Regions from separate parts of the Homo sapiens genome. Here region 1 is linked to region 2. The links come from fine-mapping of genetic effects on plasma protein levels. A gene starts in region 2. The other region holds a variant in brackets. All regions are shown on one strand. Distances are from middle to middle. Region 1 overlaps NCAM1 (neural cell adhesion molecule 1). Region 2 holds the start of NCAM1 (neural cell adhesion molecule 1).

Region 1 (15,256 bases), 290 kb after region 2:
GCACAACTTTTCCTAAATATCCTCCAGACATTGTGCATCCTCCTTGTTGCAGCTTTTAATCTATGCCTGTTACTGCTACTTCTCTAACCTAAATGTGCACAGAGATCACTGGAAGGATCTTGTTACAGGTCTAAAAAGCGCCCAGGTGATCAGCATGCTGCTGGCCCTATGATGATAAGTAGTGGGCTCTTCCTTAGCCTTCTCTCTGGTTCCTCCTCGTATCAAAGGAAGGTGGTTCCCAGAGTAGCTGAATGAGAAGTGAGGCGTGACTCTCGCTGTGCCTGCAGCCGTCTCATAAATGGCCAATGGTGTAGTTTTAGGTGCTTAGATCCAATCCCTGGTGACAAGCCATTTTGTGGCTCTTCTGTCACACGTCTGTGATTCTGTTTTCCAGAGAGCAAGCCAGAGTGACCCACCCAGAAGGTAACTGTTTTGTAGCCTCTCCAAGTTTTCTCTCTGAGGTTATGAAATAGATGCAGAGATAGCTCCTCACAGAAGTGCAGGATTCCCCAGTGTGTTAAATCTTAATTTTAACTTTGTATATGAGACGTCCTCTCACCTTATTACTTTCAGCATATATTAATGCAATTGTTTCTTTTAAAGTAAATGAGTGCCTTACTCACTGGAGAACCATCCTAGCCCTAGCAGTTTGTCACATGCAAGTTCATCTTCCTTCTCGACCTTGGATTCACAGTGCTACAAGCTGAGTGTATACTGCAAATCAAGAAACAACTGTTTTTCTGTTGAGAAATGCTAAAGACATTTTTCTCTCTCTCCTCTCACAAAGAAAAAGACTGCACTGATTGTTACTTTAACACATTAAAGTCTTGAGAATTAGCACTCACTCATTTGAACCATTAGTGGATACTTACAGGAAACTTGCATAAGAGCCATAAGGATACTTACAAAAAACTTGCCTGGGGCAAGTTGTGATTTATTTAATCACAACCGGAAACTTCTTATTTTTTAAACGAATCTAAGTAATAAAATGTCGTTCATGAAAAGCCAGTCCCAAGAATGCAGCATTATTTACTCCCACTAGAGATCAGGCCTCCCAGTCCCAGGGGTGAGTGATGTGTCCCGGCAAGAAACTGGGCTGTTTTACAAAATAATTTTATAGGTGGGAGTTTCCTACTCAAACACTTCTATTTTCTCCTATTTCAGGCTGTTCCTCAAGATGTGTCAGGCTTATAAAAATTAAATCTTCAGTTGTAAGACCAGCTAAAAGGAAACATAAGTACCAGTGAGACAGGGGAAAAAAAAAAAAAAAAAAAAGCCTATTCCTAAAATGGTGAAAGGACCCTGCTCACAGGAAGGCTATTTACCAGAACATTCCCAAGAGGCACTCTCAGTTTGGGCTCAGTCTGAGGCATCTACCTGGAATTCAGTTTTATATTTATTGCTTTTTAACCATTTGAATTTCTGAGAAAGCAAGAAAAGTGTCCAGCCCCACCCTGTCACTCCATCCCATTCAGATGGGTTGGATTTTCATTCTGTGGATGAGAATTTCATGTGAATTAACTGGCTGTTTCAGGGGAACCCAGTGCACCTAAGCTCGAAGGGCAGATGGGAGAGGATGGAAACTCTATTAAAGTGAACCTGATCAAGCAGGATGACGGCGGCTCCCCCATCAGACACTATCTGGTCAGGTACCGAGCGGTGAGTGGCCTCCTTCTCAGACTTCACCAGAACCCTGCAACCCTGGCACCCAGCTTGCTAGGGAAACAACAGGGGCAGCCCACGGGGCAGGGGTGGGATGGGGTCTTATTCTGTGTCTGGCAGGTGGCCCATGGGCCCTGGCCATGGCTTAAAATCCCAAGACAGCCCTACAGCTATTAGGTCATGTTCACACTGGGTCCATTTGGAAACCTCATAGATGACTGTGGTGGTGACAAACCCATACCATGGTTGATTTTTCTGTGTCTTGAACTTTTCTACAAAGTTATTTTGCCATTATCTAGTACTTCTTGTAAATGCCATACTAATATATAAGAATCCCTACCTTGGATAACATGTGTATTGTAGGCCAGGCACCTGCACCTCACTGTGATCACATGCATTTTCTCTGCACAAGAACCCTGTACAGTAGGTCTTACCATTATCCCCTCTTTACAGATGAAGTAAGTGGGTGTACAGCAGTCAATAACTGCTGGATCTCACGCAGCTGGGTGAGGCAGTTTGAATCCAAGCCTGACTGAGAGGCTGGGCTCTCCCCACTGCCCAAGGCTGCCTAAGGTCCTCAAACAATGCCAGTTCCCTCACCAGCCCTTCACTTGGCCACCTGAGCTGTCCTAATCCTGCTAACAGCAAGTTGGCTCTAAGCCACCTTCTCCTGGTTTGCTCACCACCCACTTAAGATTCCCCTCATTCCACCTTTTATCACAACCCCCACACTGAAAATCACCCTTTCCATTTTGGTTTTAGAATGACACTTGGTCATCTTCAACTATAACCAATGGCTGAGAGATTTAGAGGCCACATCTGAGCACTGAGAATAACCTCTTGCTGGGGTTTCGTAGTAGAGAAAAGAATGAACCAGGGAGCAGTTTCCTTTCTTCACATAGCCCCAAGGAAGACTTTTTCTGGGAAGCTGAGTTACTTCCTCTCTGCCTTGTGATCAGCTCCTGTGGAAGTGATAGGTCTTTAACTAGCTAGTCTTCTGGCAAGTCAGTTCAGCACAGAGCCCCGCAGGCATACTTCTCAGCTGCAGAGGCCTTGTTCCCACTTAATTTGTAAGCAGATGTGAGCTGAAATAGTAGGAAAGGCCTGTCACTGCCCTGAGGCCCAGTCCAGAGATCCCAGTGAATGAGAGGTCCCCATGGCTTCCTCACTGCCAAGTAGGGTGCAAGGATTGGGCAGGTGGCCCCCAATATACCCCTGGAAGCAGAGATGTGGTAGGCTGGGATGCCTTTCCAATGGTTATCCTGATGTGGCCCCATGGACAGAACATAGGTTTTAGAGCCAGACAGACATGGCATCCAATTCTAGCTTTACTACTTATTCTGGAAGAATAGGTCACCTAATCTTTCAGAACTTCAATTTCTCCATCTGTAAAATGGGGATAAAATAGCTTATTGAGTTGTTATAAAGATGCATTATAATATATGCAAAGAACCTGAAATGCACCTGACACTTGGAAACCTTTATAAATGGTCACTATGGTTACTGCTAAGAGGCAGGCTCAGGCTGGAACCATCTCCCGTATGACATCTCCAACCATGTCGGATGTCAGTTTGTCTGAGGAGCCACTGTGGCTGCAGCAGGCAGCTCTGCATTAGAAAGACACAGCTGGGCACAACGCTGAAATATGTTAGATTTCAACAACCGTAACCACCCTCTCTCACTTCAAAACCTCATTCATGTTTGCTAAATATTATAATTTTATATTATGAATAAGTATAATATAACATTTTCTCTAGATTCTGGTTGTCTCTTGTATAATGATGTTTGCCAAGGAAGACAGAGAAATGAAGAGGAAAGATACCGGAATTGCTTTCTTTTAAATGAAAGTGGGGCCACATAGTGATATATACACATCCTAGCTTACAGCATAGCCAGACTGGTTAGACTCTAAGGAAACTAGAATTCCCCTTCCAGCACCACTGGCATTTGCCCATGCAGCATGAGCACTGTCACATTCCTAAAGGCATCTCTTTGGCTAGTGCAAACCCTTTTGCCTGGGAGGACTGCTTTGCTGTAAGATAACTCCTCATCCAGCCTTAGCCATGGGCCTACAACAGTTACTAGACCACTGTCCAGGTGACAGTGCTATTGTGTTCTGCCCTTCCAAGGAGCAGCCTGTCATGCAATAAACATCTATCAAGACTTCTTGTGTGCCCAGCAGATATCCCAGGGCACCTGCCTTGTGAAAAGGCCAAAGATTGCAAAGAGATGGGCTGTGCAATGGTGAAACCATCTGAAGACTTCTCAGGCCTTCTTCCACAAACTGTTTGGTGAGGGAGGTGGTTACCTAATTATTGTTCTTTGTGGGCCCTTTGAGCAGCCCACTGTTGGACTTGACAGCAGAACTTAGTCCCGAGGTACCTCCATCTATTTGCTGCCGTTGTAGAGACCAGGTCACACTGCATGGAATAGAAAAACCTTATTCAGTCCAACAGATGTTTGCTGAGCTCCCTACTATAGAAGGGAAAGATCATGAGAGGAGGAGAAGACAAAGAGAGATTGATTGATGGAAACAAATACAGTTTGATAGGAGAAATACGGCCAAGTGTTTGATAGATCAGTAGGGTGACTGTAGTTCACAATTACCTATTGTATATTTCAAACTAGCTAGAAGAAAATAACTCAAATGTTTCTAGCCCAGAGAAAAATATTTAAGGTGATGGATATTTCAATTATACTGACTTGATCTTTACAAATTAAGTGAATGTATTAAATTATCACATGTACCCTGAAAATCTGTATAGCTATTTTGTATCAATTAAAACTGTTATTTTCAAGAACACAATTAAGAAAAACAAAAAAAAGGAAAGATCATAGTTTTGGGCCCAAACGAACTTAGCTCCAGCCTTGACTGCAGGTGTGATTTTACGTTAGTCACCTTACTTCTCTCTCACTTCCCCATCACTGGGTTTAGTAAGAGCCTGACAAAACCCCACAGGCATGTTGTAGGAATACAACAAGAAAATGTGTGTAAAGCTTTTGTAGTGCCTAGCTCTTAGTAAGGGCTCAACAAAAATAGTTTTCATTTTTTTTTTTTTTTTTTTGAGACGGAGTCTCGCTCTGTCGCCCAGGCTGGAGTGCAGTGGCGGGATCTCGGCTCGCTGCAAGCTCTGCCTCCCGGGTTCACGCCATTCTCCTGCCTCAGCCTCCCAAGTAGCTGGGACTACAGGCGCCCGCCACTACGCCCGGCTAATTTTTTGTATTTTTAGTAGAGACGGGGTTTCACCGTTTTAGCCGGGATGGTCTCGATCTCCTGACCTCGTGATCCGCCCGCCTCGGCCTCCCAAAGTGCTGGGATTACAGGCGTGAGCCACCGCGCCCGGCCATAGTTTTCATTTTTAACGAAACTGGAATCTACACAGTATTCACACATCAGGAAGGTGAGTCAGCCACTTTAACTTAAGCAGCATCCTGAAATATGACAAGAAATGTACTTGTTTTATTACTCTTCTAGGACATCCTTATGCATATGTCCCCAGCACCAGAGTGTAGCCTGGGAGACAGGAGTGGTGCTTGAGTCTCTGCATGCCCTGAAGGTGATGGGACCTTGACGGTGTTGGCCCAATGCCACACTGGCATCTGCTGTTGCTTGTGTTTGCCAGCATGCAAAGTTGACCTCCTGACCTGTGCAATTTTTCAGGCTGGTAAAGAATAAAGACCATGTCCCATCATTGCTTTTTTTTTTTTTTTTTTTTGGAGACAGAGTCTTGCTCTGTCACCCAGGCTGGAGTGCAGTGGCATTATCTCGGCTCACTGCAACCTCCACCTCCTGGGTTCAAGCCATTCTCTTGCCTCAGCCTCCAGAGTAGCTGGGACTACAGGTGTGTGGCACCACGCCCAGCTAATTTTTGTATTTTTAGTACAGACGGGTTTTCACTATGGTGGCCAGGCTGGTCTTGAACTCCTGACCTCAAGTGATCCACCCGCCTCGGCCTCCCAAGGTGGCTAGGATTATAGGCATGAGCCACCGCGCCCACCCCCATCATTGCTTCTTATTTTCATGATTTCATGCCAAAAGTTATTGAGTCCCGTAAGTTTTGCCTATTGTCTGGTCTTACCAGTACTTTTATCTAAAGCTTTTTTGGTCTCTTGTATCCTTCTTGCCGGTTTCTCCCAGAAGCTCTCCTCCGAGTGGAAACCAGAGATCAGGCTCCCGTCTGGCAGTGACCACGTCATGCTGAAGTCCCTGGACTGGAATGCTGAGTATGAGGTCTACGTGGTGGCTGAGAACCAGCAAGGAAAATCCAAGGCGGCTCATTTTGTGTTCAGGACCTCGGCCCAGCCCACAGCCATCCCAGGTATGGCTGCCTCTGCTTTCTGTTTGTTTCCGCTTTGAATTAATGCACAAGTGCTGCACCTCCTAATGCGCCTGAACAACCCTGACAACTTGCTTGCTTACAGCCATCCTCATGATTGGTTGCCCATGCAAAGCTTAGTTTTGCCTTGTACCTATCTGTGCAGTGGGGTGAGATGTACTGGACCCCCAGGAAGGCTTGGCCAAGCATCCTGGAGAAAAGGTCCTGTCCCATTTGGCCTTGAAGGACTGATGCCAATCAGTCCATTGGACCCCTCAGATGGGAAATGCCCCAGCTCCAGCCTAGCCTTGGAAGTTGGTTGAGTAAGGATCCTTTTTTGAGACCTTATCTGCCATCTGCCACATCATACTTGGACCACATAACTGTTTCTAAGCACTTCCTATCTGATGCTTGCTTTATGAGCACAGCCATGGTCCAAATCTCTTCTCTGTGGTGACCCTAAGAGAAGGAAGAGATGATGCCCATTTACTTACAAACCCTATCTACCAAAGGCCTCTCAATGGAAACAGATTAAATTGAACCACTTGTAATAGAACAAGTGGAGAAAATAGATGCTGGAAAGCACCATCAATGAAAGCAATCCGGTCTGCTAGAGACTGTGATGGCAGCAGTTCTCCTAGGAGATACAGATCTGTCTCCAGGGATCCAAGACCTAACCTTGCTGGTCTCCTTTTTGGCCAAATCCCTCAGAGAAGAAGGAGCTCTTCAACTGATCACTCTGCTTTTCCAGACCAGCCAAATGCCAACCCCAGGCAGGAGAGGTGGGCATAGAACATACAGCTGCAGCCTGTTGGGGGGCCCCATAGACCCTGCCATGTTCAAGTGTGGTGGGAAGACGGCCTTGGGCAGCCCCCCTCATGCCTGCCCTGTCTTCAGTGCTTGCCCGGCTCTTGGCTCGGTGGTCATGATTCCTCCTCCCAGGAGGAGACAGGCCAGAGGGCTGTGGCCTGCCTATGATGCAGGGATGTATGTGCAAAAATGGGCTAGGAGAGCAGCAACAAAACGGGATCAGTGTGTGGTTCCCAGTGGTTGTTTGTACATGGATGTGTGTGTCTGGGAGACGTGTGCTGGACCTCCAGTGAGTTGGCAGGTGAGTTTTACACTGTAGGTCAGAAGCATCAATTGGTCCACCCTGCATTGACAGGAAGGCTCCCCAGTGCTTGCTGGGGTGGGTGTTTCTCCACAGTCGCTGGTCAGATGGTCGGTGCAGAAGGCAAGGCACGTGGGCAAGGCTGCAGGAAATGTCCTCATTATACCTTAACAGGATGTTCAAATGGAGGTTCTCCTTGCTTTTCCTCTGCCCCTTCTTTCTCTCCATTCTTTGGTCCATTCCTTTACAATCGACAGCTTGGAGTGAATGTCCAGATCTGTCTGGCCTTCATGGGACACTTAGGAGGTGAGATCAGGTGAGGCTTGAGTAAGCCCTTTGCAGCAAGACAGATTCCTTATGGCAATTGCTCCCTGGGGTGAGACTCACTGGGTAGGCTGTTTGGACCTGCTGTGTTCACATGCTGGGTACTCCTAGCAGCACTGGCTTCTGTGGTTTTTGTGTCAGAGACCGAAATTCTGGGTAGACCTTGTCCTCCAGAGTTGTGCCTGCTGGAGATATCAGAATCCTTCTTGTGAATCGCCCAGGTGCCCACTTAAGCCAGAGAGGGCTGGGGGATTGCTCACCTCACCGGTGACGGCTCTGTGGCTCTCCTGCACAGATCTGAGAAGGTGGTGGCTGTGTTCTCGGTTAGACTTTCCTGGCCATTGAATTGGGATCCGAGAATAAAACCTCTCTGAATTACAAGTTGGACATTTGTGGTTGAATTCTGTGGTCAGCAAGCAGGGTAGAAGGTGAAGCGGGGTACAGAATGAGACTTCCTTTAACAGCACTGTGGTGTGGGACTTGTGCCATAGGAAGAAAAGCCTGCTTCATCTCTGACAAGGCCATCCCCAATCCCTAAGCACAGTGTGCTGACTCATAGTGCAGCGATCCAATGCATCTCCACCACTATGGGTAAAACACGCTAGACACTAGAAGACAATACACTTGCTGGCTGTATCTAAGAGGCTTCACCTTAGTGAAAGGTAACACTCTCCTAATCAAACTCTTGTATTTTAGCGTGGAGGCTTCTGTTCTCTCACTTTAATTTCATTTGCTCGCTGATCCCTAGCCCCCAAATTAACCCTGCTGTGCTGCTTCTGGCATTGCTGAGCTTCTGAACTGGCCTTATGGTATTGATACTGCACTGAACCCTCTCTAACCTTTGTCAATTTAATTTACTAAGTTGAATTAACCTTTGATTCTGTGTTTTCTATAGTTGACCTAATTTTTTTTCTTTTTATCTATTTTTTTCTCTGTTTCTGTCTCTACCTTCCCTTTCCTTCTGTCCCCCTCCCCTTCCTGTGTCTGTCGTCACACTTGTCACCTTGGACGTCACTGGGACATCCCCACTGCCACATTTGTTTTTAAACAACCACATTATCTCTGGGGACCCATTGCTTGACACCTGCAGCAACCTTGGGAGGCAATTCTGCATCCTACACCTTTGTCTCATTGCTTTTCTCTGCAGTGACTCTTCTTTTGCTCTGTTAGGAACTTGAACACAAAAATTAAATTTGCT[T/G]AAAAGCCCAGTTCCTATGAAAAAGATCAGTGCCCCCTTTGGAAGAACCTGGCAGGACCACCATGGCCACAGCTGCTGAGCAACCATTCTGTGTGGAAGAGAAGGTTTTGTGATTGGAAAAAGCTTTACCTCCAGACATGTCACCACTCACAGATACTTTTGTGCCACTTCATAAGGAGTTTGCCCCCTTTTTAATGGCAGTAAAAAGAATTTGAGAGCTCTTTCTTTAAATGCTATTTTTAAAAACCATCATGCTAGATTTACAGAGAAGTTTCTGCATATCTGCTACTTGTTGCATTTTGGGTTCAAACCTAAATATGATGTAGCAGAGGAAGAATTCTAAGTACCTTCTAAAGCTTGTGTCAGATTGTTAAAATCACCACACATTCCCCTCATTCTAACTCTGTGCTCCTTGTCCTCCCTTCAATAATAATTGGCTTTGCTTGCAATTAAGCATTTAAGTGCCCATGTTAAAAGAGCCAGACCGCACTGATTCACATGAGCGTTTTGCTGACATGATGGGCAACTGAAGTCACCCCTGTTGCCCATGCACTGGAAAAAAAGTTGAATTTGTTGGATATTTTCTGGGGCTGATGAACGTTCTGGGATGTGCTTTCAGTCCTCGTATTACGGCCAGCACCTTACACTGTCTCTGTGAACGGGGCCAAGCCATGATGTGCCAACAAGTGTCAGCTTTGAAAGGTGTTTGTCTCCCAATCGGGGTGACTCCCCTGCTGCCTGGCAGCATGTCGCAGATCAGCACAGAGTGGGGCCGTGGTTCAGCAGTGACCCACAGAATGGCTTTGAGCATCAGTCTACAGGACAGGTTGGAAGCATCCACTGTGAACCAGGCATTAGTCCCCTACCTGGCCTGTGTGTGCTCAGTAGAGAAGGAGAGGGACAGGCCACTCCCAGACTGCCCAGCCCAGGAGGGTTAATAAATTGGGGCCGAGCCAACCTGTCAGTGCTTCCTGAATGCCCCAGCCTCTGTATTGGTGCGTTGGTTCAGTGACATTTTCTAAACTCTCCTGAAAATCCAGCTGCTCCTCCCTGCTGCTTGGGAGTTCACCCAGGAGAGGAAATGGGTGTGTTTTGTTAAGGTCCCTTGTGGAGACTCAGGGCTGAATCCTGCTTGGTAATATCAGTGTGTGTGCTTGGGGATGGACCTTCTACTGAATAAAAACTCCCTCCCTCCCCCCATTGTGGTCACATATCATTCTACATATCTCATCTCTGAGCATCTCCATGGAAGCTTGATTTTTGTTCTTTTTGGTTTCTTTATGTATTTTTTTCTGTTGTTATTATTTTTTAATGTTCAAAGACTAGCCTTTCCCTTTGGGATTCCAAATGATCCCATGCTGTGGTCTGAGGGGCAAAGCCACCTATGTTGGCGCTCGCCATTAATCCCCAGCGCTCAGTTTAGAGGCTCACGTGCAGACATCAGAGGCTCCATGCTGCACAGTAGCTCAGGCAGGGTAGTGCCTCTCAACCCAGCCACAAAACTCTCCCCGCTGGAGTCCCAGATGGCGCTTCACACCAGGGCAGTGGAGGCAGGCATGGTTTTTGGGCACAGGGCAGAGCATAAGGATCCCAGGTCAGTGTGGGAGAGCTACTGGCTCTTAGGATCACCTTGGGCAGAAGTCACACGGCTTCATCCTAGGAGGGCCCAGCTTGGGAGTCTGCCTCCCCCTGATCCCAGGACCACCCACAGGAGAGGGGCAGTGTCCATCTTTCTGAAGGGACCCTTTGGAGATCTCGTCCTAAGTGTGGAGAGGACTGACGTGGCCCTGTCATCTCAACACATCCCAGGGTCAGGCAGGCCTCAGCTGAAACAATGTCAGGGTCCTCAAGGGTCCCATTTAGACAGACCCACGGCTTGTAACAGTGCGCTCCTCAGGAGGCAGCACTAGCGCATACCCACTCCCCACGGACACTGAGTTCCTGGTGACAGCTGCAGCCCCAGCCCCGCCAGGAGTCCTGGAGACAGCAGCCCTCAGAGACCCTGCAGGAGTGAGTGCACCCCACCTTGCTCAGCCACACCCCACTCCCCTGTGCCCTGTAGTTGTGCTGCCCATGCTCCACACACCATGGGGCCCCTTTGCTCATTTTTGGACTATTTATACAGCAGGTTTGGATCATGTTTTTCTACTAATAAGAATGCTAACATTGTTGTGTAGATAATCAGTGAGGGCTTTATGAAGTTTACACCTTTGCATTATTAAAGGAAATAACAGTTCATGTGAACTCACCAGCGTGGCTTGATTTTATTCAATAGTTGTGTCTGACAAAGCAGCAAAGACCCTTTCCCTCCGCCTCTCATGTACCTGGATAGACTATTACCTAGAGAAATAGTAGCCTGGTGAATGAAATACTTTTTCTTCCTAACGGGGAGCAATCTCTTTTTCCCAGGCATCCTAAGAGCTGTTAAGAGGCATTGCTGCCTTGGAGTCCCCAGCAGGCAGTGGGAGGGGAAAATGCCTTTGCAGAACTGGGGAGGTGGTCACTATGGGGATGGGGCCACACTCTGAGCCAACAGATGCACAACTCTGTGGCAAGGTCACCTGATGACACAGCAGCCTTTATACTATCCCTAACAGAGGCTGCACAGAGTGAGCTTGTGGAGAGGGAATCTGAGAGAAGATTCTCTTTGCAAACTGTATTCTATTCATAATCACACTTAACTCAGACGCATCCTGCAAGCCCCTGAGACCAGCCATCTGTTTAGCTGATTCGAAGGAGCAAGCAGACATGTAAAGGGCTTATGAGTGAACCAGAACCCCAGCTCAACAGTTCCAAGAGTCTGACCATCTTCTGGGAGTCTTGGGGGTGAAAAGGGCATTTCTGCTGCACCAGGGTCTCATGGCACAAGGACTCAGGCCCATCTGGATATTTATAAAATGTGAGACCCATGTTCCTATATTAAGGCATACAAAAATAGGCATCTGTGGGTCTCATTCTTGGAGCAAGCCAGTTCCCTCTTTAGTGCCAACCCCTCCCAAGCCAGGAATCACAGAAGATGGACAGCTCCACCTTCATAATCTCCCTGTCCTGGGCAGCTCTGACCTCGAGGTTATGGGGAAACTCTTCCCCAGAAGCCTTCTTTGCATCCAAGGTGCACAGGTGAGTTAGTCAAGGGAGGGCTGAGGGAAGACCATAGCAAAGACAGACCCATGGAGGTTTATATTTTTCCTTTTATGAAATATTACACAAGAGGCAGGAGATGGCCTTTGTTCTTCTAGTTATCTTGGACTAAACAATTCTGTGATAGCCACTGAGAGGGAATGGGTGTTGGCTTTCGCCTTCAATACCCTGCTGCCCATTTCACAGCCTGTCCCTTCTTCACAGCCTCTTTTTTGTAAAAGCCACAAACATTCTCTTCCTAGCTTAAAGAGCATCTCACCTGCTTGAGGAGTTTAGACTCAGTGTTGGCATACAGTATGGTCGCTTTTCCTTTGGGGCATACTCTTTGTTTTCTCTTGATCCACTCAATACCTTAGGTCAAGTTTGTTTTCAGGGTCACTGGGTGAGACAGCACAGTGCACCCTGGGGTGGCAAATCATGGGATCACGTGCTCCTCTTTGTAATGCAGGGGAGGGAAGACCTAGGAGCGTGGTCCTCATAAGAATCACCTGGGCTGCTTGTTCAACTCCTGTTTCCTGAGCCTCATACCCAGTGATTCAGATCCCATAAAAGTGGGGAGCCCCAGATTCTGAATTGTTAACAAACACCCTAGGAATTTGCTACAGGTGGAGATATATTGAGTTTAAAGGTATTTGTCATGCAAAAATAAAATCACAAGGATCAGTGATTAAATATGGGACCTACCGAGCATTTTGGTCTTCCAGGAAAAAGTCTTTCTCAGTCCACACTCTGGAGACTGGCATTAGGGAACCTGTACCGTGTGCCAGGCAGTGTAGAATGTATGACTTGGAATGACAGGCTCTTGTGGTTGAAGAGACACTCTCCACCCATGCTCCTGCCCAGTGTGGGAGCCTCATCCACAGCCTTACAGCGTCCCTGCCAAGGGGTCTTCTGGCCTCTGCTCGAGTGCCTTCAGCATCAAGGAACTCACCTCTCAGAGCAGCCCACACTATGTTGGATTCGCCCTGTTTATTAGTCCTTTCTCAGATGGAGCTAAAATCTGCCACCACCATAATTTCCACACATTGGTGCCATATACAGTAAGACTACTTCTTCCTTCTGGTTATAACACCTTTAAATATTTGGAAATAGTATTCTCGTCTCCAGACTAAACACTCATCCATTTGTGCAACAAGTATTCTTTGAACATTTTCTGTGAATCAGGATTGTCCTAGATGCTGGGGAGATACAAGAGAGACAGGCAGGGTACCTGCTGGGATGTCCTAGGGGGGATGGCTAGATCATAAGCATGTAAATGAACAGAAAGTGGCAGATAGTAGTTAGAAGAGAATAAAACAGGCTAGCAGCATGGTAGGTATTGGCTGGAGGTGCCACACTAGATAAGAGATCAGATAAGGCTTCTCTGAGAAGGTGACACTGGGACTGAGGCCTGCAGGACAACAGAGAGCCACCCTGGAGGGAGTGTTCCAGGCACAGAATCATCAAGGCCCTAAAGCGGGTTGAGCTGGATGTGTTCAGCAGGCAGAAGGGAGGCTGCCGGTTCACGCCATGAGGCCCAACAGAGGAGTGGGCAGAGTCTGCAGCAGATGGTGGGCCTTTTAGGCCGGGAGAAAGACTTTGAATTTTATATTCAAATGAAAGGGGAGGCCGCTGCCCTACTTGTTTATGCCACAGTTCAGAAGCCTTTTCCCTGCCTGGCCCTCCCCTGGATGTGCGCAGTGCCAGTGCCGCCCTCCAGCTGGGTCTGATGAGCACAGAGCAGTTGTCCCAGCTGCTGTCCTCTCAAGCACATAGAGCAGCTTTGCAGGAGTTTATTTTTCCTCTTTAGAGATATGATTAGTTTCACAAAATCATATTTACACATAAACCTCAGAAGATATAATTAGTGCCATTGAGTCCAAAAATCCAGACATATTCCCCACTGTCATCAAAAAAATACTTTCAGATCTTTCTTCAGGGAGTAGGCACTTTACACCTATCGGGTACTGATGTCCGGAAGCTGCAGTGGCCTGGAGCCCTGTGTCATGGAATGGAGAGAAAACCCAAGGCTAAAGTTTCTTCCCTGTTCAGGGAAACAGCTATGGGATCCTGAAGACCAAGAAGGCCTGTGTCTCCTTTGCTTTTTGGGTGGAATGTGTGAGGACTCTGGGGAAGTGGATGGTTTTGTTCTTATGAGACTAACCAGAAATACCTCTGCATTCATGGCTGCTAAGAAAATGACCCATTCTAGCTGACGGCTAAGGCCAGTGGCCAGCTTCCTGCTGCCAAAGCCCAGAGACAGGTGTCCAGAGCTGGGTTCTCCAAGCAGAGTTCTTCGCCATCTCAAGCCTTCCTGGGGGAATGCGCTAGGATCTTCAGTGCGAGGTCAGCAGGGACCAGCCAGAGAGCCTGAGGAGGAAGGGCTGGGAGGCAAGCCAAGGTCCCAAAGGGACTAAAAACATGTACGAGCTGCACCCAGGGGTCTCAGGAGTCATTTGTGAGGGATCCTCTCTGGCATGCTAGGCTGATGGCCCATTCCCCAAACTGAAGTTTGAAATATGGACCAGTGGAGAGGGACAGCCACCAGAGAAGCACTAGAGTGCCTGGACAGAGACCCCTGGGGCACACAGAGCCATCAATACCACCACCCTCCCGCAAATACAGGCTGCATGAAAAACAAAAAATGTGTGGCCCAGCTCTGGTGCTGGTTACTCAGTTACATGTTCCCTCCACTATCTATCTGGCATGTTACATGGCTCGCAAGCTGCTGAGCCTGGCCTGGTGCTTGGCAAAGCCTAGCGAGCTGGGTTGGGAGTGGGGTGGCTGGTGGGGTGAGCCCCAGGTAGTGCTGGCTACAGTTCCCATCTTCAGTCTGCAGTCCTGGGTGGCTTCAGTTGGCCCTGAGAGCACAGGAAGCTTTAGACATAGTCTACTGGTGGGGCAGGGCTGCCAGTTATGGAAGCAGGTTGTTCTGGAGGAAAGATGAATTAGAAGTGCCCATATTTCAGTCGAGGGTGATTGTTCCCACATCGACTTAATGGCAGAGCTCCACATGGGTCCTTGCTTCCTGCATCATGACCACTGTCTCCCAGACACTGATGGGAACCACCAAGAGGTCAATTGGTCCATCCCAGGCAACTAGTGTCAATCGTAACCATGGGTTGATCTCCCAGGGGCCCCAGAGAGCTGAGTCCAGGTCTCTCTGTGAAACCATCAATAGCCAAAGACCCTGGGGGGATTGCAGATGGGCACCAGGGAAGTAAGACACAGGCTGAGTCTTTCACAGTGAGTCCAGCCAGAACCAGGGTGCCAGGTGCTAGAATGTGAGAGTGCATGCCTGTCTGCATGGGCATTTATCCTGCGTGTGAGTGTGCCTGTGTGTGTGTGCACCTCTGAGTGAGTCTGCACTCACTTCAGGTTTTCCTGAAGTCTGGTCCAAGCAGGCCTGAGCTCCTAGATGGTGAGTATTCCCAGACCTTTCACCTTGCCCATGGCCTGGGGAGGCCTCCATGTCTCTGGAGTCACCCAGGCTTCACTTGTCTTCCTGGGGTGCAGTGAGGAGGG
Region 2 (15,074 bases):
AAATGGGGAAACCATTGCAAAATCATCCATATGAAGAAATATTACATAGCTATAAAAATATCTAGAAAAGCTTTTTAATGATCCAGAGGAATAAATGCTTATACTGATGTTAGGCAAAATCAGCAGGATTCAAATTGCTACTATAATATGTCAATTATAAAAATCATATGCACATACAGAAGACAAAATCTATGAGTATCTCTGGAATCTGTGGGATTTGGGGTTATTTTTAGTTCTTTCTACTTTTCTGTACTTTTGAATTGTTTATACTTGGAATGAGAGAAATAGCCCAAAGTAAACGTTGTGGAAGATTTACTTGGGGGAAGAAATACTTTTCAGGGGTCCAAGCTAATTACACTGTACTGGTGTGGCCCACTTGGTCTATTATAGAGGAGGAAAGTGGGGAAGAGATGGGGCCTGTCCAATAAGGATGGATGTCCTGACAGTAGAGGATGGACTTTTAAAAACTGCTACAGCGGCTGGGTGCGGTAGCTCACGGCTGTAATCCTAGCACTTTGGGAGGCTGAGGTGGGCAGATCACGAGGTCAGGAGTTCGAGACCGGCCTGACCAACATGGTGAAACACCGTCTCTACTAAAAATACAAAAATTAGCTGGGCGTGGTGGCGCGCGCCTGTAATCCCAGCTACTCAGGAGGCTGAGGCAGCAGAATCGCTTGAACCGGGAGCAGAGGTTGCAGTGAGCAGAGATGGCGCCACTGCACTGCAGCCTGGGCGACAGAGCGAGGCTCCATCTCAAAAAAACAAAACAGAAACAAAACAAAACAAAACAAAACAAAAAACCTGCTACAGGAGTGGGGAGGCCGACCTTTGAAGAAAAACGGAGTACCCGGTAACATTAGTGCTTTAATGCCTTTGAACTTATGCAGACTTCCTCTGTTAGAGGGTTTCAGTGTTCTAGGCTAATGGGTTAACCTGACATCTAGAACACCTTTCTCACATTAGTTCCTTACATACCCAAGCCTTCAGGTGCTGAGACATGATTCTTTTCACCCCGCTTTCTCCACCCCCTACTTTTGAAAACACGGGTGGAATTTTAATTAAAGCCTATTGTGTTGGTACCTCAGTAATATTATACATTAATATCTTTAAGAATTAAGGTCACGTCCCCATGTAAGAAAATATTATTTAATGACGCTTCTATATCATAATACCTATATAAAAGCCTGGCTATTTTAATAAAGAGACCACAGATTTCAGAATTTATAAACAGGAAAACATTTTCTTCGGGTTATTTCTGGAAATCTCTTCCAAACATCGGAGTTTTCTTCTAACTTAAGTCTCTTCCCACCTCCTTCCCAGGGGATCTGCTGAAGGGTGTTGTATGTCTCTCTGTGGGAGAGCAAACTTCACAGTTAGGATAAAACAAACAAACAAACAATATCCAAACAACACCCAGCAACGGCAACCCCCATCCCTCTCCAAAGTTCTAATTTCCCGCACTTAAAGTCCTGGGCTATCCTTGTGTTGCAAGGATCTTAGAATCGAAATGGAGGGATTTGACAACTTTACCTAACCAAATCTAAAATTTTGCTTTTATTATTTACTAGTTATCAAAATATGCAAACTGCTGATTAAGGAAGGCTGGGTAGCAGGAGCGCCTGCGAAGGCGTAGGGTAGAAGTGTGAAAAGAAATCCCAGCTCTCCCAGGGAGACTGCGTGTGAAAGAGCCCGGCTCCCCCAAAAGCTCCAGGCCGCGTTTTGCAGGCTTCCGCATCTGCCTCCCCTGTCTCTCTTACCTCCTTGATGTTCGGCACTATTTGTGGCCGGCGTGGTGGAAGGACACAGTGAGGTTCTCACCCCCGCCCCCCGCTCCTCGCTCCCATCCCAGTTCCATCAAAACGAACCCGGGCCAGCGCAAGGATCTCCGAGTTGCGAGTGTGCTGAGGCTGGGACTGTCACTCATTCTCCGATCAGCGCGTGAACGCAGCTCGGCTGCCGCTGGCAGGAAACAATTCTGCAAAAATAATCATACTCAGCCTGGCAATTGTCTGCCCCTAGGTCTGTCGCTCAGCCGCCGTCCACACTCGCTGCAGGGGGGGGGGCACAGAATTTACCGCGGCAAGAACATCCCTCCCAGCCAGCAGATTACAATGCTGCAAACTAAGGATCTCATCTGGACTTTGTTTTTCCTGGGAACTGCAGGTACATTTTTTTTTTTTTTAATTCTCAATCTGGTTTGCTAATTACCCCTTCCTCCTACTCCTAGGAGGAACGCTATTATTTTGGGTGGTTTTACGTGGACTGCTAAGGCTGGTCATTTTCGTTTAGCTGTGAAAGGAGCGCGTCGCCCTTGCTGCCCAGCCGAACCCCGCTCCCTCCAGGGCTGCGCTGCACGGGGCTGCCTCCCCGAGCCGCCAGCGCCCGGCGCCCCTCCGGCGCGTCCGCCCTTCCCACTTTGTGCGCCCGCGGCGGTGGGAGCAGAGCCGGCCGGCTCCTGGGGACTCAGCGGCCGCGCTGGTGATGGGCAGCGCTCCTTCCCCAAAGGCGGGCGGCGGGGCGGGGGAGGTCGCGGCTCGGGTGGTGCCGCCGCACGGGCTCGGATTCCGAGGGGGAAGTGGCTTGTCAGCCCCGGCTCCGGGAAGAGTGAACAATAAGGCTAGGGCAGCCGCCCCAGATCGTTATATTCCTGGGTCTAATAAAGTCAGGATCGCTGCTTTGCTTCCCCCGCCCCAGAAGAATAACGGTTTGCAAAATGGGGCAAAATGGGCAGAATCGCACGGCCGTTGTTGTTGGTGTGACCGTTGTTGCACCCCAGTCGACATGACGTTAGTTTTTCATTTGCCAAATTGCTGGTTAGTTGCAAAGCCTACCCTCGGCCGCGAGCACTGAAGGATGGGAGGGTCGAGCGCCGCGTTTTGACAGGAGGAAGTGCGGAGGGGCGGAGGGCGAGGAGGGCGTGATTGGGGCTGCCTGGTGTGTGCGCGCGCGTGTGCGCGCGTGTGTCTTTACACGCGCCGCGTGCCCAGTGTTGCACGGGGCGGGAGAAGAATGGCAGGTAGCCGCCCGAAACACCTCGCCCTGTCTCCTTTCTTTGGGCGAGGTTCCCGATCCTGGCAAAGTGTGAACAATAGGGAGCTGGGAGGAAGACAGTAGTGATGCTGCCGCGGGTGGCGGGGGTTGCGCCGCCGCCCAGAGAACCTCGGCAGTGTGCAGGGAGGTGCATTTCATTTTGGCTATTTCCATCCCGGCCTCCCTGGAAAATTCTTCTGTGCGTGCCCACCCTCCCCTCCAGCTGTCATCCCCCCACCTCCACCCAAGGATTTGCGCTTTGGCTCTGATGGACGGGAGGGAAGGAAGAAAAGCAGGGGCCGCAGAGAGCTGGGTGGGTTGGGCGGACATTCTGGGCGGGGGGCGTGTGCTGGGAAGCGATCGAGGAAAGCCGGGCGGAGGGGCTGTGTGTCGCGGTCGCAGCTCCAGGTACCGTTGTACCTGCCCTGGACGGCCGACCCCCGGTTGGGGAGCGCACGGGGCGGGCCAGGGAGCACCCAGTGCGCCCCCTCCGCGGGCGGCACAAGAGCAGCGCTCGGCCGCCGCCTCCAGCCAACTCGGGTCCCTCCCACGGCGACCAATCAGTGCGAAGCTGGCTGGGCGGGAAGCCGCGAGAGGCTTTTATTGCGGCGCGGGTGGCGGCCAGGAGCTGCCAGGACAGTCTCCCGGTGCTTCAGCCTAACGGTCTCGCTCACTCACCGCCAAGAGAAACCCCGCCCTGCGGCCGGTCCCCCGCCTGCCCGGCAGTTTCCGAGGAAATAAAATGGAGACTAGGTGGTCACCGGGAGTGCTCCTGGTCCGGCCGCCCGTGCTCGCCCACTCTCGCCTCTTTCACGCCGACTTGGAGCATCCCACCGCCCCCGCCAGCGCTCACTCTCGCGCCGCGGAATCCGGGCCTGAGCGCGTCGCCGGGGAGGGCATCCTGGCAGGCACACCTACGCGCGTGCGCTGACCGGCCGACCGCGGGCCGGGGGCTCTACTGACGGCGGGGCGGGGCCGTGGCAGGGCCCGGAGAGGAGGGGTGGGGACCAAGCCTAGTCCGCCTGGCCCTGGGTCTCCGCTGCCACCTGGGCGGGGGCCACCCCGGTTATGCCCCTTTCCGCGGTGCCCGTGGGTGCCGCGACGCGACCTGTCCACATGGGGCGGGGGAAGGGGGGTGTTTTTGAGACATCCTCGCCCCCGGGTGGGAGCGTGACAATGGAGCCCGGATATTTGGTGGGCCTTTTGGGGGATCGCCTGGCGGTCCTTTCCATCATCGTGATGGGTACAGTCATCAGTATTTGGATCCCGTGGAAGTTGCAGGCCCAGGAATTCCCACTGGGATGTTCCTGGATGCCCAGGCAGGGGAGGCATTCTAACCAGTGTTCCCTGGAATGAAAGCGACCTCTTTCCTGGCCCGGTACCTTGAGGATGGGAAGAAGGCAGAACGTGAAACACATACAAGGTTGCTTAACAAAAGAAAGAAGTTGAATGGTTTTCCAAAGAGAAATAATTTCCCATTAAAATGTCTTTTGTACCATAGTTTTTTTTTAAAAAAATCAAAGAATTCAAGTCAAAGGGTTAGAATGAAAATGAAAACATAACAACAAGTATATATACATATGTATATATATCTGAGGTTTTTTTTTTGTTTTTTTTTTTTTTGTTTTTTTTTTGGACTCAAATGTAGCATGTCCAGGGCAGTGGTAACTGAGTTTGTGTGCTCGGCTGGGTGCATATGAAAATTTACATATAAGGCAAGCTAACCTTAATACGTCAAGTGAGTCCGATGGGCTGCCCCTCTCCTCTTTCTGTGTCCTCTGCTCTTTAGAAATACAATGAAAGGTTGTGCAATTGCATAGTAAATTTGAGTTTATTCTAGTATAAATTTTGGATGTTTTGAAGAATTGTTCGCTTGAACGATCTGGAATGGTTAAGTCACATGTTTACTTGATAATTTTGCAGTCTTCTGCCAGTTAAACTTGCAAGAGTCAAGGAATGGATAGGACTGGGTTTCTAACAAGATACCATCGGTTAAGAACAAAGAGCTACTTTACAAAAGCTAACATTGAAATCAAGTAGTATATATAATATCTCTCACTAAGCAAATTAAGGTGCGCTTCCACAAAGTTGACTGTGAGCACAGTTATAGTGAGCCATATATTTTTGTTGATTTTCATTTGAAGACTGAGAATGTGTGTTTTTAAACAGAATTTCACTGAATGTAATAAAGGCTATATAAGAATGTGGAAAACCTTTCACAACTCTAACCAAACCCTAGAAAGATTATTTTCTTTCAATAAATACTAGCATATTTAGAAATATTAATAACTGATAATTTGTTTTAAATCCAACAGAGTTATTAAAAACAGGGAATATAATCCAGACATTGTAGACGTGTGGGCTATGATTTATGTAAGTTTTTGAGTTACTATTCCCTCTATAAAGGTCTTAAAGATCTGCTAACCTAGCTAAGCTTCCATTAGTCTTTAACTGTTTTCTTAAGTTAATGCTTTATGAACGCCCTCTTTCTTTCCCTAAATTGTTGAACCTGATAACTTCCTTCCAGATACCTTTATCTAGGATTTTTTTTTTAAAAATGGAATACCAGAAAATAGCAGGACATATTCTTGTTTAGTAAAGGAGTTTCCTCTAAGTCTTACAATGATAATTGATTAAACTAAGAATATGTTGATTTAACTGGTGACTGGTTTCTTGAGTTTGATAGTTCAAGAATTAAGATAGTAATTGCAAAGAAAAAAAAATCCCACATCAAAACTGAAAAAAAAATGATGTGGGTGTGCTATTTGTAAGGGATGTGGGTGTTTACTGAAGGCAGCAATAAGAAGGAGAAATTAGTCTGTAGCACCCCCAAATTCCAAGTTTTGAACAGTGCTTCTGTTTGGAATCCATTTATCATTAATTGAATTCCTCAGATAGGTAATATGTAATTTAATGGAAGTAACCTATATCTGTATTTTTCTGTCACAAGGAACAATGTCTTAATTGCCTTTCAAAGTAAACAGCACCATTTTGTCACTCAAAAGCTAATCTTTAGACATGTTTTTGTTCACTACAGAACCCAGTTTCTCAAATTATAGAGAGCATTTTGTAAAATTTACACTGCTTAAATAATGGACTCTGGAATTTCTGATGCAACCACTTAATTTTTCAAGGTGATGAAGCCTCTGTTAAGTATGAGTTTGATAAATTTCTCATAATTTTGTCTTTAGTATTAAAGAACTGTGGCTGCTCTCCAGACTGAAAGTGGCTTCAATACTACTGGCAGGCTTCCAAAGACATTTTACAGACAGTCCTTTCTGACTTAGTGTAAAATAAGTGATTGAGTACCTGTTGCTAAAGAACGGGTTGCACTTTTAGGATCTTGAGCTTGTGATGGAGAGCAGAACCAATTGGCAGGCCAGGGAGAGAAGGGATCGCACCTGCCCCCGTCAGTCTGCGGGAAGAATCATAGACTAGGAGGAGACAAAGACATCTTATAAAGGCTCTCCTGCACCAGTTCAGCATTGCTTTTTTGAGCACACACATGTTTTCTGGTGTCAAGATAAATATTTTAATGTAAATTCCATAATTGATCATTTTTCAGTTTAGCAGTTATAACATATAGACTAAGGAATGTCTGGAACTTTAAAAGAAATGGCAGCACATTACAGGGAGCATTTTACTGATCTTAAAACTGGGTTACAAATTACACAAAATTGAAAACATTAATCACGTGGCTGTATAAAATGAAGTCATTTGAGCTTTTAATAAAAGTCACTAAGGTGAAAATTCCTTTGGTTAAAAAGAAAGAATTCTAAGTAAAATTCGAAGAAGAAAATTTTTTACTTTTCATAATATACTCAGTGACTCTGAGCAATGCTGTAAGAGATGGTCTTTTAGGAAGGAGGAAATGTCCAAGGACCTCTGAATCCTAATGATTAGGTTTCTATGAGCTCCAGAGTTTTCACTATTCGAAAACATTGTAGTGAAACTATTTTTAACAATACAGGTAGATATGCTTACTACTTACTGTAGGGTAATAGAATACAGAAGTCAATCTGAAGGTCATAGTCCTGTTACCTCTAGCCTCTTTTGTTATTAACTCTTGGGGCCAAACCTTAAAACCATTTGCTGATGTAAAGGGATGTAAATTATTTGGCGTTGGCAGTGGTGCCATTATGCCTTTTCATTTCATGTTGTTGAAATACTGTCTCTCAGCTGCAGATGCTCATTAGGAGCATTGCTTTTTGATGTTGGCCTGGGTGCCAAATGGCGGCCTTTCAGGCAGTTTCAATACGTTACATTTAAAACATGCTCAGGCCATGTCTACATGCAGCCACTGAGTTAACGGATTTTCAGTTGGGTAGACACACTTTTCCTTTCCTGCAGTATTAATTTAGCTTCTAAGCAATTGGAGACTCCAAGAGGACTGCACTAAAAGGATAAGCTATTTGGTGTATCTTGTGTATGTGTGCTTTTGAAAAACAGATTGTAATAAACCCATTATGCATTCTATTTTCTTCCATATATACGTAACACTTTCTTGAATTCAAAGATTGCATGGCTGATATGATTTAAAAGGCTTCTATGTAACCTATATTCCACTTCGTACTCTGAGGACTTTTTGATTTGTAGCTGCAAACATGGGTAACAGCTGATCTTCCGTTTTCTATTTGGCGTCATTCCTGAGATAAGGTGTAAAATGCCTTTTGTTGTACATTAATCACCTCCTTTGGTATCTGATTACCTCATCATTTAAGAATATTCATAGTAATGTCACACTGTTTGAGATTGTGTTACATTAGGTATTCTCTTAAATAGTTGATCAAATATGTTTATTGAGTGCCAGCTTTTTATCATCTGCTCTGTGGGGAATTAAAAGGAGTGAGATGACATAATTTCTGCTGTCAGGGAACCTTGGGAGTAGTAGAGACTAGAGATTAAGAGAGGTAGATAACCCTGGGTTGAAACCCCAGACATATCCCTTACTAGCTGTCTGATCTCAGACAAATGATTTAACTCCTTCAAGTTTCAGTTTCCTCTTCCGTGAGATCGGAAAATTAGTAATGCCTACTTGTTAGAGTTATAAATATTTTAGAGATCTTAGGACTTCAGTGCATGTAGGCAGTGTTCATTAGTGAGCAAGAAGGATATATATGGATCTGGAAAAAATAATTATTTAGACATAGTGCCCTCTTTTTAGAAGGATTTTAAAAAGGGTATTATGATACACAGGACTCCTTCAGAGATTAGAACTAGGCTTAAAAAATTGGTCACTAAATATGCCTGCAATTCCATGTTGGTTGTGAATACTTCAGAGAAAAAAATGGCCTGATTATAAGGTTGAAAACCATCAGCACAAGGGTGGATCTAGGTCTTGTTGGGCCTGAAGGGTATATAATTTTGAGGGCCTTCTTTAAGGAAAATACAAAACTCTTCTTGCTTTTGCGAAGGTTAGTTGAATACATGACCATGAGAACACATTGCCAAGTCCCAGTCCCCCAGAGCCTTGGAAGGAGTCCATGCAGTTGAGGAACCCTGAAAACTTCTGGTCCTTCTTTAGCAACTATCCTTTGGTCCACTTGGACCCACTTGCTTGGGAATATAAACTAATCGTTCCAGTTTATTAAACGTGGACCTCATAGAGGTTGTATGTGTAGTGCTTTGAAGATTAGAATCATATATTGAAGTCAAAGTCATTTTTAGAAAGAAGTATTTCACTTTTATTTGACAGAAGATCTTAAATGAGATCTGAGCTGATTTGATATTTGTCACTGCCGATATTCTTGTAAATTACTAACTAGAAGAAAATAAAGCAATTGCTATTATTATTCAAATGAGTGAGATGTAAGTGCCCGATTGGCAGGGCAAGAAGTAGTTTTGCCAGCTAAAGGCATATGATATTGGAGAGGAGACTGAAGATTTTGTTTTAGCTATCTAAAAGGAGATAAACTGGATATATAATACCAATAATTATATCTTAATCATCACGTTATGGTTTACAAAACACTTTGATATGTGCTTAATCTTCACACTAATTATTTAGTAAATATTGACTGAGTACGTGCTCTGTGCTGGGTGCTGGGAATACAGCGGTGAACTAAACGTACATCGTCCCTGTTTTCATGGAGTTTCCAGTCTAGTAGTACAGAGAAATATAGACATTAAAAAGTAACACATACATTTATAATTACATATTCAGATTCAAGTCTAAGAAAAACCCAGGATGAGAGATTATCAAGGGGGATTGGGTGGTTGGGGAGGTGAAGATGTAACATTTAAACAACTGTGAAATAGGAAGAACAGATGGTATTCTCATTTTAGGGCATGGTTGATTGACTACTTAATTCAACAAACATTGAATTACAACAAACATTCCTGAATTCCTTAACTCAACAAACCTTTGTGAAGTCTGGAGAAGGTCAGATAGCTTCAGGAATCGTGTGGAGTTTCACGTTATGAAGTCCAGGAAAATAATACATCTGCCTTTAGAGCTTACCACCTGGAAGGAGGGGAGACAGACATACTATACTTATAAACAGAGGCATGAAGTAAATGCTGTTGGGCCACAAGAAAGGAAGCAATTAATTCTGCCTGGGACTCCCTCGAGCTGGGCTTGGGGAAGAATTGCTTTCATTAGATGGAGCAGGAAGAAGGGGTGATCTGGGCAGAGCAGACACCCTGAGCAGTGGTTGAGATCTGAATCTGGTTGTACATGGGGAACAGTGTGAGAGTAGTGGGGAGGAGTAGCCAGAGATAAGGAGAAAAAAAAATTCTGCAAGTCCAGATTGTAAGTCTTTAAATGGAAACTGAGACTGAGAAAGGTTAAATGACTTAGGCAGGTGGAGCTGGGACTGCAACTTACGTTCGTTGTCTGAATTTTATCCTTTTCTAAGGCAAGGATAATTTGAATATATATAGCATCTGAATACATGCCAAGCAAACAGGAATTCCTGTGGCTTCTGGACTGAGTCTGACCAAAGTGTGGGAGGAGTGATGGGGAGGAAGGGCACTATTCAGAGCTGTGGTCTGAAGGAACCGTCCTGCCATTCTGCAAGTTGCTGTCGTTCTGAGCCTGTTTCCCCATCTGTAAAATGGGGTTAATGACACTTCCCTTGTGGGTCTTGGTGAGCTGAAATAAAACCACATATGTAAAGCAGATATAAAGTATGTACTCATTATGTGCTTTAAAAAAGTTCCCTGTGGTCAGATATTTTATTTGAAATGTTTGTTTAAAAAGGTGTACAGTACTCTGAATATGATGTGCAAAGTTCTGTGCTAGAGGCTTAGAGGAAAAACAAAATAAATTTAAGGTTACTATACTGACCCTTTCAGGTGGTTGGAGAGGAAGCACTTTTGCTTAGTTCAAGCTGCGAAGAAATCATGAAAGATATTATATCAGTAAGTGCCCGAATGAAGCAGGCAGGTAAAAACTGGGAAAATTGAGAGGCAAAAATCATGTCTATTAGTTTTAATGTCTGGGGGAAAAAAGAGGTATAGAAAAGCTAGAACTGACCTGGACCTCCACAGATATGAAGGTAAATAGGGAGAGAGGGCCTGTTTTCCTATAGGATGAGGTGGATCTGGCCAAAGAATTGCTATTGAAGAGCAGTTAAAGGCTGGAACTTGGGGCAAGCCATATTTAAATCTTAAATGTCAGACAAAGGAGAGGAGTCCTGCTGGAGATGACAGAGAAATTAAAAATATATATATATGTTTAAGAGGATAGTTAACAATAGCAACTGAGCGTGTGCTGCCTCAGGCTCTATGTTTGGGACTAGCTGGGAATTAGCAGAGAGTTAAGTAGGAACAAATTCATATAGTTCATTGCAGCACTAAAAGGGAATTCTGGTTTTATATAGCATCCACTATGGTGGTCGGACAAAATGAAGGGCTAACGAAGGGATTTTTATTGCTGTATGAAACATCAACTAGATGATACTAGGAGAAGGGAGGCTAGTGAAGTCCAATGAAAGTATCTTGCTTAATCAGTAGGAACACCTGTATGCGGGGAAAGGACACCATTGGGCTTAGATTCGAAAGATCTGGGTTCAAGAAGTTGCTCTGCTACTAACTAGCCAAGTGAATTTATATCAGTTATGTAACCTCTTTGAACTGTAACTTCCGCAATCGAATATAAGAACAAAATAAGATAATATATGGGAAATGCATTGTAAATGAAATATTTCACAGCTATACATTTTATTAGTAGACATGTTGCTGAAAAATAAAAATCAAATTTTATGTACTGCTAGAGGTGCTTGTTTGATTAAAGAAACCCAACTATGATATATTTTCTAAAGCAGGAAATTTTGGAAAGATACACTTGTAATGATTTTGGATAAGGATAAAGGGGGCATAGCTGAGATGTTAGAAATAACAAAGCAACCAAGGGTAGATGATAGATCCCAAATGGTAGATGACTGAGAGGGAGAAAGATCTTTGAAGTTACAAACTCGAGGAAATTAAATAATCATGGTACTGTAAATATGATGGAGAAATTAAGAGACAGGTTAGGTTTTAGAAAAAGTTTGGGCCTCCTAATACCTTAACTTGTAGGTCAGTATTTTTCAAACTATGGATGATGAAATCTGTTTAACGGGCTTCCATATATATTAAGAAAGAAGTAAGAGAGGAAGGAAAAAGGGGAGGAAGGAGGGAGAGAAGGAGGGAAGAAGTGGAAAAAGAGAGTGTGTTTTATATAAGGGTAAGTACTGCTTTGAGTACTTCAATTTCTCTCTCTCTCTCTCTCTGTCTCTGTCTCTCTCTCTCTCTCTCTGTGTAATATGTAACTTGGTTGTAATGGAAAATACATTCTTTTGGCTCAGGTCAAAAGAGTTTGGAAGCTACTGTCATCGAAGGAAGAATGTGGGATCAAAGAGAGGGTGAAGCAGTCTGTAGTGGAGTAAGAGTACGTCAGAAGGTATAGAATAGAAACTGAATGGGTTGTGAGGGTGGGGAGGAAGAAATGACAGCAAAGTTACGTATTGAGCATCTAAGCAGTCAGTTAACGACAGGGTGTGAAAAAAACAAAACAAATCAAACTCTAAATGTTATACCTTTTTTTGAAATGGTATCTCACTGTGTTGCCCAGACTGGCCTCAAACTCCTGGGCTCCTGCCTCAGCCTCCTGAGTTGCTGGGACTGAAGGTGCACATCATTGTGCCCTAAATATGGTACCTTGACCTTACAGATCTTACTGTCTGTTTGGGAATGAAAAGATAACTGGGAATACCAGGTAGCATCTACAGCCAAAATATGAGGCACTTAATGTTTCAGAGTCAGGATAAATATTGCCTGGGAACCAGAGGGTGGTTACAGCTGTACATTCTATTAGTAGACATGTAGCTGAAAATTATATAAAAATCAAATTTTGTGTACTGCCAGAGGTCCTTGTTAGATTAAAGAAACCCAACTGTGGTATATTTTTTAAAGCAGATAATTTTGGAAAGACACACTTGTAATGACTTTGGATAAGGATAAAAGGGGCATAGCTGAGATGTTAGAAATAACAAAGCAACCAGCAAGGGTGGATGATGGATCCCAAATGGTAGACGACGGAGAGAGAGAAAGCTCTTTAAAGTTATAAGCTTGAGGGAATGAAATAAATATGCAGACACTGGAGAATTCACACAACTTTAGGTGAGAGTTGAAGGAGACTTTGAAGGAAGAATTTATCTCCGCTGAGAGGAAGGGTTGATGAGGTAAGTATGTGTGTTCCCTGTTTGGGAGGTGAATGGAGGAATCCCAGTTAAAGAGACTAGGAAGACTCAAAGATGGTAGTAATCTATATTTTTATATGTTCAGTGGAGAGAAAAACACCATGAGTTATGGTCAGTACTTTGCGGGGTTTTTATCACGCCCACAAGTATTTATGTGGCAGTGTTTATGTAGCACACAGAATGATATCTTGCCTATAATTCAGAAGGTAATAGTGAACAAATGAAGAGAACCAGAGCTTAGTGGCACAAAAGCCTAGGTTAGAAAAGTATAATAAAGTGAAGTGAAAGAAAGTTGGAAACAAATAATATATATAGGTATAATCCCAATCTTGTTAAAAAACGTCTTTCACTCACCCTGTAATCAAGACTGGAAGACGGTAAATCACTATTTATGTTGTCTGAGTTTTTGATAATGAGCACATATTGCTTTGCAAAACAAATAGTGCAGTAAAAACAAGGGCAGCAGTACTAAGGGTGGTTAAAAGTATAAAGTAGGTGAGAATTAAGTAGAAACTTGGGATTTGTGTCAGAGGAGAGTAGTGATGTCAGAGGGATTTCAGTTGAATGGTGAAATTCAAGTTCTTTATTTAGAGTCAAAGACTGAGGAAGAGCTGATGTCCAGGACACTTGGCAAAGAAAGAAGGAAAGGAGGGCTGCTAGTTTGGGTGACGGCCTCATCATGAAGCTTCCTGGGCGCATTGAACTATGCATCACCACGGAAAAGAGCCAGAGGGAGGGGAGAGGTGATGAGCAACCTTTGCAAAGGACAACAGGACAATTTTATGCCAGAGGAAATGAATAAAGTTAAGGGTTTTCCCCAGTGACTTCATTTATCATATGAGTTGATTATTTTTAGATTCAGTTTTGTCTTCTTACCTCATTGCCTGTGGTGTTCATACATTTATTTCTAGACCTTTAAAAAATGTTTCTATAGCAAAATCTTTTGAAGCTTGTTCTGCATGTCACAAATTGGATGTGCTGTTTTTATCAGATCAGCACAGGAGTGATTGATTACTTTTCTAATGTTCGTTTAGTCATTTTCAATTTGAGTGTCCATTCTGTTCACATGAGAGGCTGCCAGTCACCAGTTAAGCTGCAATTGCTATATGAGAATTGGACTTACAGTACTCCATAAAGGTGTACTTTAAGCAGCCTTAAAGGCCTGTTATCAAGGGCATAAGAAGATGGAAATCCAATGAAAGCTCTTTGGTTTGGGTACATAATTATAAATTATCTTTCTTTCTTTCTGAATTTAGTATCTCCTTTTGGTGTTGGAGGCAGTGCATACTGCACAGGGTGCCCCATGGACCTTTGGTATCAAACCCACATTTCGAACTGTGACTCTCCTGCTTTTCATGACCTTGAGCCAGTTATTTAATCTCCAACGGTCAGTTTATTTATCTGTGAATCAGGGATAATACCTAACTAATAGGGTTATTGTGAGGATGAAATGAGGTAGTTTATACAACTGTCTGGCACATAGTGAGCTCAGCAATTTTTTCCCATATCCTTTCTTTCTGCTAAAGTTCACAGTGAAGGGATATACAATTCGCGTTGGATTTAAGTATTGATTCTAATGAGAATCACATTTTCCATTTATTTTTCATGTTCTGAGAGTTCAGGATCACTGTGAATTGCAACTGAGTTGGAAATGCCATGCTTCATTGTGGAGCTGTTTTACCTCCTATGAAAGCAAAGCCTAGTAGATCTTGATTTTGACAAAAGTAATAGTTAAAAAATTAAAAGTGGTTTATCTAGATTCTCCTTTCCATTTGCATAGGGTTAATATCAAATCTGTCAATTCACTATAATGGTTGAGCCATAAAATTTAGTGTATTTAAATAATGGTTGCTGCTAAAGATCATATTGGTGACACTTCATTAATCTGGAAGTCACTTAATCTGGAAGTCACTTACCTGGCAACCCTGATTCTTTGAAACATGAAGAATGAAGAAGTAACGGAAAGAGGCCTCTGAAGAGCTAGCATAGCATCTTTTTCTTTCTTGATGCAATATCTTTCATATCGCTGAGGAGTTCATAACATTTCTCTTGCTTCTTGTCTCTTTTTGTCTGAATTCCTCTTTATTATGTTTGCTGTTGTATCTCCTTTTGTGTTTCATGTTGTTTCATTTAACTCCTCAAATTCTAATGATCCCTGGCTGCCTATTAGTAAAGAGTGAGACCCTGAAGAGCTGTGGGGCTCAGTGTGGGATGTCACACACTGAAAGACTGTGCAGAAACTTGGTTTATTGGGTGGGGGACATCCATGTATATTCATGAGTACTTACATTTTCTTTTGGACTGATTGACTTAAGAGAATCCAAAATTTTGCAGCAGGCACGGTATAAGTCCAACTACTAT

The links. PIP is the chance, under the fine-mapping model, that this variant and not a neighbour inherited with it causes the effect. Protein levels are from the aptamer-based SomaScan assay of Sun 2018.
Region 1: its variant is fine-mapped to the plasma level of the NCAM1 protein (Sun 2018, PIP 0.95).

The regions. Positions count from the first base shown.
Region 1 is chr11:113,254,343-113,269,598 of GRCh38, forward strand. It overlaps NCAM1 (neural cell adhesion molecule 1), which reads left to right. Exons shown (of 20, transcript NM_181351.5): 16 at 1,535-1,659; 17 at 5,804-5,981. NCAM1-AS1 (NCAM1 antisense RNA 1) reads right to left here. Exons shown (of 3, transcript NR_034101.1): 3 at 15,190-15,256. Among named protein-coding and RNA genes, the nearest start is that of NCAM1-AS1, 12 kb to the right of the region's middle. The variant T/G (reference allele first, on the strand shown) is at 8,612.
Region 2 is chr11:112,959,502-112,974,575 of GRCh38, forward strand. NCAM1 (neural cell adhesion molecule 1) reads left to right here and starts at 1,919. Exons shown (of 20, transcript NM_181351.5): 1 at 1,919-2,163. The coding sequence starts at 2,112. NCAM1-AS2 (NCAM1 antisense RNA 2) reads right to left here and starts at 3,959. Exons shown (of 3, transcript NR_120563.1): 1 at 3,709-3,959; 2 at 1,866-1,975; 3 at 1-1,350. RefSeq lists an enhancer at 1,862-2,639.